Linked DNA regions of Homo sapiens: region 1 is linked to region 2. The links come from fine-mapping of genetic effects on gene expression. A gene starts in region 2. The other region holds a variant in brackets. All regions are shown on one strand. Distances are from middle to middle. Region 1 has its middle 20 kb from the start of AFF4-DT. Region 2 holds the start of LEAP2 (liver enriched antimicrobial peptide 2).

Region 1 (5,378 bases), 110 kb before region 2:
AAGTCATTTTGTATGATAATGTGGCAATTCATAATTTTTGTATCATTCATATATTTTGCATTATTCACATTTCACATTCATATTTTCATTTATATTCATATTTCATATTCATATTATTTTTGTATTATTACTATTTCATAATTTTGTATGGTAATGTGACAATTCATATATTAGGATATAATAATCCTAAACATGAATACACCTAATAACAGAGCTTGAAAGCATAAAGCAAAACTGATAGAAATAAAATGAGAAATAGACAAATTCACAATTATAGTGAGAGATCTCAATACTCATACTCAATAACTAATAGAACAATAGACAAAAAAAATCAGTGAAGACACAGCAGATTTGAACAACACAATAAACCCACTTGACATAATTGCCACTTACAGAACTACTCCACCCAACAATAGCAGAATATACATTCTTTTTAAAGTGTACCCAGAATATTTAGTAATGTATATTTACCAAGGTAGTCCACATTCTATGCTATAAAACAAGTCTCAATAAATATGAAAATGTTCAAGTCATACAAGATATATTCTTCGACCATGGTGGAATTAAATTAGAAATCAATAACAGAAACATCTCTGGAAAGTCCCCCACTATATGGAACTAAACAAGACACTTCTTTTTTTTTTTTGAGATGGGGTCTTGCTCTGTCACCAGGCTGGAGTGCAATGGCGCAATCTTGGTTCACTGCAACCTCTGCCTCCTGGGTTCAAGCGATTCCCCTGCCTCAGCCTCCTGAGTAGCTAGGACTACAGGTGTTCGCCACCACACCTGGCTAATTTTTTTGTATTTTAGTGGAGATGAGGTTTCACCATGTTGGACAGGACGGTCTCGATTTCCTGACCTCGTGATCCACCTGCCTTGGCCTCCCAAAGTGCTGGGATTACAGGCGTGAGCCACTGTGCCCGGCCACAAGATGCTTCCATATAATCCATGCTCAAAGAGGAAATCAAAAGGAAAATTAGAAGACATTTTAACTGAATGAAGATGAAAACAAAACATATTAATATTTGCGAAATGCTGCTGAAGTAATACGTAGGGGAAATTTATATTAGGGGAAAAGTCTCAAATCAATGACTTCAGCTTTCATCTTAAGAAACTAGGAAAACAAGAGCAAAAAATCCCAAAATAAGCAGAAGAAAGAAATATAAGAAAGGAAAGAAAAATAAAGATCAGAGCAGAAATCAATGTAATAGAAAATGAAAAAACAATACATTCAGTGAATCCAAAAGATGGTTCTATGAGAAGATTAATAAAATTGATAAACCTCTAACCAGACTGCCCAGGATAAAAAAGAGGACACAAATTACCAACATTAGGAATGAGAGAGGTGCTATTACAACACATTCCCAGATATTAAAAGAACACTAAGAGTACAGTATGAACAACTTTACTCATTTAATAAATTAGATAGGCAGAGTGCTGTGGCTTACACCTATAATCCCAGCACTTTGGAAGGCTGAGGCTGGAGAATTGCTTTAGGCCAGCAATTGGAGACTAGCCTGCACAACATAGTGAGACCCTTGTCTCTAGAAAAAAATTTTTTTAAATTAGCCGGGCTTAGTGGTGCATAGTCCCAGCTACTTGGGAGGCTGAGGTGGGAGGATTGCTTGAGCCAAGGAGTCTGAGGCTGAAGTGAACTGTGTTTGCACCACTGCACTCCAGCCTGAACAACAGAGCAAGACCCTGTCTCTTTAAAAATTAAATAAATAAATTAGATGAATGGACAAATTCCTTGAAAGACAAACTACCAAGGTTCACTTAAGAATAAACAGATGGGGGTGGGCGCCATGGCTCACGCATATAATCCCGGCACTTTGGGAGGCTGAGATTTTGCCCAGTCTGGGCAAAAAGGTGAAAGAAACCCCATCTCTACAAAAAATGCAAAAATTAGCCAGATATGGTGGCGCATGCCTGTAGTCCCAGCTACTCTGGAGGCTGAGGTGGGAGGATTCCTTGAGCCCAGGAGGTTAAAGTGGCAGTGAGTGGAGATTGTGCCACTGCACACCAGCCTGGGTGACAGCGTGAGACTCTGTCTTAAAAAACGTCCCTCTCCCGCTCCCTCTTCCCCTCCCCCTCTCCCCCCCCCCCCCACGGTCTCCCTCTCCCTCTCTTTCCACGGTCTCCCTCTGATGCTGAGCCGAAGCTGGACTGTACTGCTGCCATCTCGGCTCACTGCACCCTCCCTGCCTGATTCTCCTGCCTCAGCCTGCCCAGTGCCTGCGATTGCAGGCGCGCGCCGCCACGCCTGACTGGTTTTCGTATTTTTTTGGTGGAGA[T/C]GGAGTTTTGCTGTGTTGGCCGGGCTGGTCTCCAGCTCCTAACCGCGAGTGGTCCGCCAGCCTCGGCCTCCCGAGGTGCCGGGATTGCAGACAGAGTCTCGTTCACTCAGTGCTCAATGGTGCCCAGGCTGGAGTGCAGTGGCGTGATCTCGGCTCGCTACAACCTCCACCTCCCAGCCGCCTGCCTTGGCCTCCCAAAGTGCCGAGATTGCAGCCTCTGCCCGGCTGCCACCCCATCTGGGAAGTGAGGAGCGTCTCTGCCTGGCCGCCCATCGTCTGGGATGTGAGGAGCCCCTCTGCCTGGCTGCCCAGTCTGGAAAGTGAGGAGCGTCTCTGCCCGCCCGCCATCCCATCTAGGAAGTGAGGAGCGCCTCTTCCCGGCCGCCATCCCATCTAGGAAGTGAGGAGCGTCTCTGCCCGGCCGCCCATTGTCTGAGATGTGGAGAGCGCCTCTGCCCCGCCGCCCCGTCTGGGATGTGAGGAGCGCCTCTGCCTGGCTGCGACCCCGTCTGGGAGGTGAGGAGCGCCTCTGCCCGGCCGCCCCGTCTGAGAAGTGAGGAGCCCCTCCGCCCGGCAGCCGCCCTGTCTGAGAAGTGAGGAGCCCCTCCGCCGGGCAGCCACCCCGTCTGGGAAGTGAGGAGCGTCTCAGCCCGGCAGCCACCCCGTCCAGGAGGGAGGTGGGGGTCAGCCCCCGCCAGGCCAGCCGCCCCTTCCGAGAGGGAGGTGGGGGGGTCAGCCCCCCCGCCCGGCCAGCCGCCCTGTCTGGGAGGTGAGGGGCGCCTCTGCCCGGCCGCCCCTACTGGGAAGTGAGGAGCCCCTCTGCCCGGCCACCACCCCGTCTGGGAAGTGTACCCAACAGCTCATTGAGAACGGGCCATGATGACAATGGCGGTTTTGTGGAATAGAAAAGGGGGAAAGGTGGGGAAAAGATTGAGAAATCGGATGGTTGCTGTGTCTGTGTAGCAAGAAGTAGACATGGGAGACTTTTCATTTTGTTCTGCACTAAGAAAAATTCTTCTGCCTTGGGATCCTGTTGATCTATGACCTTACCCCCAACCCTGTGCTCTCTGAAACATGTGCTGTGTCCACTCAGGGTTAAATGGATTAAGGGCGGTCCAAGATGTGCTTTGTTAAACAGATGCTTGAAGGCAGCATGCTCCTTAAGAGTCATCACCACTCCCTAATCTCAAGTACCCAGGGACACAAACACTGCGGAAGGCCGCAGGGTCCTCTGCCTAGGAAAACCAGAGACCTTTGTTCACTTGTTTATCTGCTGACCTTCCCTCCACTATTGTCCCATGACCCTGCCAAATCCCCCTCTCCGAGAAACACCCAAGAATGATCAATAAAAAAAAAAAAAAAAAAAAACAAGGCCAGGTACTGTGGCTCACATCTGTAATCCTAGCACTTTGGGAGGCTGAGGCGGGCAGGTCACAAGGTTAAGAGATCGAGACCATCCTGGCCAACTTGGTGAAAACCTGTCTCTACTAAAAATACAAAAATTAGCTGGGCGTGGTGGCGTGCGCCTGCAGTCCCAGGTACTCGGGAGGCTGAGGCAGGAGAATCCCTTGAACCCAGGAAGCACGGGTTGCAGTGAGCTGAGATCGCACCACTGCACTCCAGCCTGGGCAACCGAGTGGGACTCCGTCTCAAAAAACAAAAACAAACAAAAAACACAAACAACAAACAAACAGGCCAGGTGTGGTGGCTCACTTCTATAATCCCAGCACTTTGGGAGGCTGAGGTGGGTGAGTCACTTGAGGTCAGGAGTTTGAGACCATCCTGGCCAACATGGTGAAAACCTGTCTCTACTAAAAATAAAAAAATCAGCTGGGCGTGGTGGCGCACACCTGTAATCCCAAGTACTCTGGAGGCTGAAGCAGGAGAATCGCTTGAACCTGGGAGGCGGAAGTGGCAGTGAGCCGAGATTGTGCCACTGCTCTCCAGCCTGGGTGACAAAGCAAGACTCCGTCTCAAAATAAAAAGAAAAAACAAGCAAATAAATTTATACACCTAAAGGGAATAAACTTCAAACAGTGAGCAATGTATATGTAGGGTATACATATAGATACGAACTGGAAATAAAATTGAGTCAATATTTTAAAAATCAGACTTTAGTGTTCATTAACATTTTTTTCCTGTGTAAATTGCTTAAAATTATGGTTTGGATTGTGATAACCAGCCTTTAAGATGGTTCCCAATGATAATAATTTCCAGTTACTTATGACCTTATATAGTCCCTTTCCATATGGAATCAGAGATAACCTATGTGACCAATAGAATAGTACAAGAATAACAGTGTGTGACTTCAGAGGTGAGGTCATAAGAGGCATTACAGCTTCTGCTTTGTCTCTTGAAACACTCACAAGGACTCGTTCTGTTGCCCAGGCTGGAGTGCAGTGGCATGATCATGGCTCACTGCAGCTGCGACCTCCCTAAGCCCAGGAGATCTTCTACCCTAGCCTCCTATGTAGCTGGGATCACAGGCACGCACCACCATGCCCGACTAATTTTTTTTTTTTTTTTGAGACAGAGTTTCGCTCTTGTTGCCCAGGCTGGAGTACAATGGCGTGATCTTGGCTCATTGCAACCTCTGCCTCCTGGGTTCAAACAGTTCTCCTTCCCCAGCCTCCCAAGTAGCTGGGATTACAGGCATGTGCCACCATGCATGGCTAATTTTGTATTTTTAGTAGAGATGGGGTTTAACCATGTTGGTCAGGCTGGTCTTGAACTCGTTACCTCAGGTGATCCACCCACCTCGGCCTCCCAAAGTGCTGGGATTACAGGTGTGAGCCACCGTGCCTGGCCTAATTTTTTTTTTTTTTTTTGTAGCAATAGTGTCTTGCTGTATTGCTCACGCTGCTCGGGAACTCTTGGGCTCAAGGGATCCTTCTGCATTGGCCTCCCAAAGCGCTGCGATGACAGGTGTACGCCAACGTGCCTGGCCCACCAGAATAAATCTTAGAATATTCTGATCACCATGAAAAGAAACCCTAGCTGGGCGCAGTGCCTCATGCCTGTAATCCCAGCACTTTGGGAGTCCAAGGCGGGTGGATCACCTGACCAACATGGAGAAACCCTGTC
Region 2 (5,365 bases):
AAAGCTCCTATTCACATGAACCCTATGGTTAATTAGAAAGAACTTGCTGTCTCCAGAAAAGGGAATGGAAATAATAACTATGTATCTTCTTTTCATGTAATTTGGTCACAGAATAAGGTATTCAAGTTAAGTCTAATCCAAGTCTTAGAGATCTTTAAGTATCCTAAAATAGCAGCCTAAGTAGTCATCATGTAAAGAAGTTGACTTTCAGGAATGTCAGCATTGACCTCTCCTTGCCACTGTTACTCAGCTAAACATAACTTGCCATTCTTAAAAATAAAAAAGCTCCCACCCAGAAACTCTAGTGATACTCAGTTTTGACCTCTTACTGCTTCCATGTGGGACTTCTTTTCAGCTTTTAACCATTGGAATTTTCTACCTGCTATGTTCCTCTCTGGAAAATATCAATTTGGAAATGCTGCCTTTCAAATCAATGCCATGATCATCCATATTGTTGAGTTTGTTGTTGGTGTTCCAGAAGTGTCCCCATTTTACAACTTTATGCACACACCTGGCAAATCATTAACATGAGCATTCAACAGTACTGGGATGGGTGGGGTGGGGGTAGGGGGCTCACCAACAGAACTGGCCAGTTGACATTGCCTGAAAAGGCACCACCTTTAAGGGCCAGTTGTGGGGTTGGTAAGCACAGTTATGAAAATTTCTATCTAGCCTCCGTTTTGAATGGTTTTAAGAAATTTTGTATATGGAGGATGGAAATGCTTATATATTTATTGAAAATCCTTTTATTTGAAATTAAAATTATTTGGTATATAATTGTTTGATATTTGGGGAGGGTTTTGGAGGGGAGATAATGTCACTGATAAATTAAAAGCCTGTTGATTTTGCAGAAAGGTACTGTTAGTGACTGATAAGGATGCCTTTGTTTTGTACATGAACCAAATCTTTGTTTTACATTTCTTTTATCCAAAATATTTAGGCATCTGACATTTTCAACCAGAATTTCAATTATATACTGTGATTTTTATTTGTTGCAATACATTACAATTTCAGAGGTACTTTGGGGCTCAAAAGCTAGGATTTCTAAGTCAGTATGTGCATTTCACACGATAAAGCTGTTAATGGTGAGCAAAGTATTATATACTAACTAGATTTTTCCACATCTGTATAGTATATTATATGTATTTTGTGGTATTGAGAGTATAGAAAGTTTAGAGTGTCAAACATGCGTTTAATGTGTATTTTTAAACAAATTTATGGCAATTAAAATATTTGGAGACAAGGGTATCACATTTCAATTTGTAAAGATCTTTTTAACTCTACTGTGTCATTAAGATGCTTTGTACAATGCCAAACCATAGTTGGAGAAACTAAGTTTAATAAATATCAAATAGATTTTCTGTATTAAAGTTACTGAACACTGTACTCTTTATATTTCTTCAACTCTGAGCCCTTTTCATGCAATTCCTGTTTTGTGTCTTAAGGTCCGTTACTACTCTTTAAAAGTCTGTTCCCACCAGCTGAGGTCTCATTTTCTGATTACAGAAATTCTGAACTTGCTGGCCATGGGTCCTTGTGCATATGTCAAAATTCACCTTGTCCCAACAGAAATCTTAAATCTCTTTTGGTGCTTTTGGTGGCTTGGGCTTTCATTGCTTTATTAAACTAGATTTTTCTCTCTGTTCTGCCTTATCTTCAGACAGCCATAGACAAACCTGGGTGCTTCATTAGATGGCAAGTGCTTGACCATCTTTTTTTTTTTTTTTTTTTTTTGAGACAGAGTCTCTCTATGTCACCCAGGCTGGGGTGCAGTGGCATGATCTTGGCTCACTGCAACCTCCACCTCCCAGGTTCAAGTGATTCTCCTGCCTCAGCCTCCCAAGCTTGACCACCTTTGACACCTCCCTGAAGAGTATGGAGTGAAGGGATCCAGGGCCACAGCTTAGGAACTTGCTGAAGTTGATTACGTAGCTATTGATTATGTAGCTCTCACTACACTTTCCAGATTGAGAAGTTAACACATTATTGGGCAATGCTGTTTTTTTCTTTAGTATACAAAATGAATCCTTCTTTCCCTCAAAAGCTTGAATTCCAGACTGCTAAAATTTCAATTTGAGACATTTAATAGTATCCATAGAAAAATAAACTCTAAATTGACAAGTTTAGTTATGCTTATCCATATATCAACATTCTAAGAAGAAATGGAGACCAATTTAAAGCGTACATCTGCCTTTAAATATTAAAAATACAAGATTGCTTCACTTGGGTGTCTCCAGCCAAAATGCAGTTAATCAATATTCCATAGAACGGAGCATTGTCGGAGGTGACTGCTGTCCTTTCTTTCCCTGGTATGTACATCATTCCTGGGCCACACTTAAGGAACAGCGTCTTTTTCTAGGGGAAAAGAAAGGGTAGTTTTTTAAGACTGGGTCTAGGAATGACCAGGGCCACCTATGCTGCATTTCCTTCCTCTTTGCTTGATCTGTCCAGTCTCAGGAAAGACTGAAGAATGGAAAGGCACCACTCTTTCATGGTACCCACATAGAGCTGTTCTTGGCTCCTAACTCCTAAGGGATTTTCCATGGAGCTCCCAGTCTCAGTCTAGAACTCCTCCATCCCAGCTTTATTCTTAGGTTCATGTGTCCCCTTGTCACTCCTCTGCCCAGCTTCCCAGGGCTCTCTGGCCCAACCCTGCTCCCAGGTTCAGGGAGTACCTGCATAGCCTTGTGATACACTCAGAATCATCCCGGCAGGAGGCTCCAATAGGCCTGAGGGAAACCCCTCTCCAAAATGGGGTCATTCTCCGTGGCCTTCTCTTTGCCGAACTCACTTCTGGTATTGGGGAGCCATCTATCTGTAAGGGCAAAGACATTCAGATATGAAAGTGTTGACACCCTGCTGCACACCTTGGAAGAGTGATCATTCCATTCCGCAGATGCTGTAGACTCAGAACAGAGGAACCATTCCTCAGGACTGAATCTAGCTTTCAAGTTCCACCACCACTATCATCTCCACACTCCACACACACACATAAGTATCCTTCCCTCCTTACCTGGCCCAACAGCAACAGGAAGATCATGAGGACTGCACAAAGTTTGAGGTGCCACATCTTGACAGGGGGAGGATGTTGGAGCCTGAAAGCCAGGGACAGTTCCTACTTCCTTTTATAGACTGACATCAACTCTTGCATTGTTACTGGGTGAGATGGGGGCAAAGTTTATATTTGTAATCAGAATCAATTTAATAAGTTAATGTCTACCGGAGGAATGTGCTCAAGGGCCACCTTTCAGGCACGTTGTATTTACTGATCCCTCATCTGGACTTTGAGTGATTGTGTTGCTGGCATGGACCCTTTCGCCCATTTTACCAAAAGTCAGCACTGCCCTTCCTTCCCTTTGAAAGCCACGTGAAACCATTGAGGGAGGTCAGGCAACTAGCCACATTTCTATTCCAAAATAGCTCAGTGAGATCACTCCCATAGAATTCCAATAATGAAGTCTTCAGAAATAATGTTGGCCCCTTTCAGCCTTGTCTAGGAAAGAAGCACTGATCTATTGTGTACAGCCAATTGGATAAGGCCCTTATCTCCTTTCTGTGGGAGGATGCTTCAGCAAGGCCTACAGTTCCCCAGATCGTCCACTTGCTTAGATGGACTGTCACCCTAATCTGCACCTCTTTATCTCACTAGTAAAATGAAGACCCAGCTGTGGAAAGTTCAAAGTCTGGCCTCCTGCCCTCTCAGGGGAATGGCTGGATGTGAGACTTATTTGGACCACAGGTGAATTGAATAATTATAGGTTTCTTTTTGTTTTTAAGCACATGTAGATGAGGAGGTAACAAGATCTCCTAAATCAGAGGGAGAGCTTGTGTAGTGACTGTATTAAAAGCCTTGAATTATGGGCTTTCTTCCCAGTAGTTGAGTGGGGCCTTTCCTTCCGGCAGCTTCAGGGCAACAGGCATAGGGATGAGATACCTCCAAAGCCCAAAGCATCCATCAGTTTAAGTAGGAACTGCTGCAGATTTCTAGACCAAGGGAGGACATGTATCTAAACGATGGGTAGTTATGGGTACTCGTGAAATGACATGGGCATTTTAAGTTTGAGGGGAAAGCTGTGAATTCTGAGTAAGGAGACTGATTGGACTTTAGATCTTCCTATGACCTGGGAGGATAATAAGCTTAAGACAAAGACAACAAATTCTTTCTGCCGGGCATCATACTGAAAACTTGGCTAATACCTCTTCCCAAGGGCCGTCTCATCTTCACAGGTTGGGTATTTGGATAAGAACCTGCTTGTTCCTTTACTCCAGGAAAACGTGGAGGAGATGCACAACAGCTGAAGGTAGAAAAGGATGGCCACTGACCCTGCTGCCAGTCAGACAGAGGGAGCTTCTTGCCAAGGGAGAAGCAGATGGTTTGATGGACCTCAGAGCTGGAATTGGGCAGGATGTGACCACAGATCTGACTGTCCTGATTCTAGTCCTCTCAGAATCATGGAGCCAGGCCTTGAGGGGGATGCCACTGCATGCACTTTAGGAACATTGAGAAGAGACCTATATACCAACGAACCAGTTGAGACTAGTTCTCTGCTCCCTCCCTTCACCCCTAAGCTTGGATACTGGATGATCCCAGACAGGTGCCTAAACTGGGAACTTTTGCTGGGAGGGGAAGTGGCTATGTGGGTGACCTAGTGAGCACTGGGTAAGAACACAAATGATTAGATAAGCAAAGGACTGAACAACGTGATGTCCTAGAGCCAGTTGGGTCTGTGGCCTCAGTGTCAGCCTCCCCTTTACCAGTCTAGAGTGATGTGCCAAATGGGATTTGGAAACTGTTCATCCAAAAGATGAGTAATTCTCCTAATCCTCCATTTCTGCCTTCCTGTACTTCTAGCAGGATCAAACTAGCATGGTGTTAATTTGTAAAGCTGATAACACAGTCAAGGAAAGAAAGAGCTTGAAGCCCTTGCCCCTCTGTGTGTAGGCGGAAAGGACCATTCATCCTCATGAGTGTGACAACATTGCAGAGGCCTTTGGTTCAAGCCTCTATGTTGTATGCCACCCTCTCCCCAAAAGAAAAAACCATTAGTCACTGTCTGTGGAAGGAACCACTGTTGGGGAAGGGGAAAGTATTTTAACATGTCTACGTGAATGCTAGTTGTTTTAGTTAAGTATGGAGCAAAAATCAAACTCAAAGCAACATCCAGGCAGCAGTTAGCTGAATTGGCAGTATTTGTCCACAGCCATCCCATACTTGAGAGACTGTGAAGGCCTCTTCTTGAAATTAAAAAAAAAAAAATTTCATGGATTCTACAATCAAGTATTTTGCTCAGTGAATATACACGTAACTGCATGCTCCTTCATCCAATAGAAAGGCCTAAGTAGCCTTTAACAGTTGCAGCCGTAA

The links. PIP is the estimated chance that this variant, and not a neighbour inherited with it, causes the effect.
Region 1: its variant is fine-mapped to the expression of LEAP2 in whole blood (TOPMed, PIP 0.99).

What each region holds. Positions count from the first base shown.
Region 1 is chr5:132,980,675-132,986,052 of GRCh38, reverse strand. No RefSeq gene overlaps it. Among named protein-coding and RNA genes, the nearest start is that of AFF4-DT, 20 kb to the right of the region's middle. The variant T/C (reference allele first, on the strand shown) is at 2,295.
Region 2 is chr5:132,871,400-132,876,764 of GRCh38, reverse strand. It overlaps LEAP2 (liver enriched antimicrobial peptide 2), which reads right to left and starts at 3,097. Exons shown (of 3, transcript NM_052971.3): 1 at 3,014-3,097; 2 at 2,676-2,815; 3 at 1,719-2,355. The coding sequence starts at 3,070. The coding sequence ends at 2,319. It overlaps AFF4 (ALF transcription elongation factor 4), which reads left to right. Exons shown (of 21, transcript NM_014423.4): 21 at 1-1,370.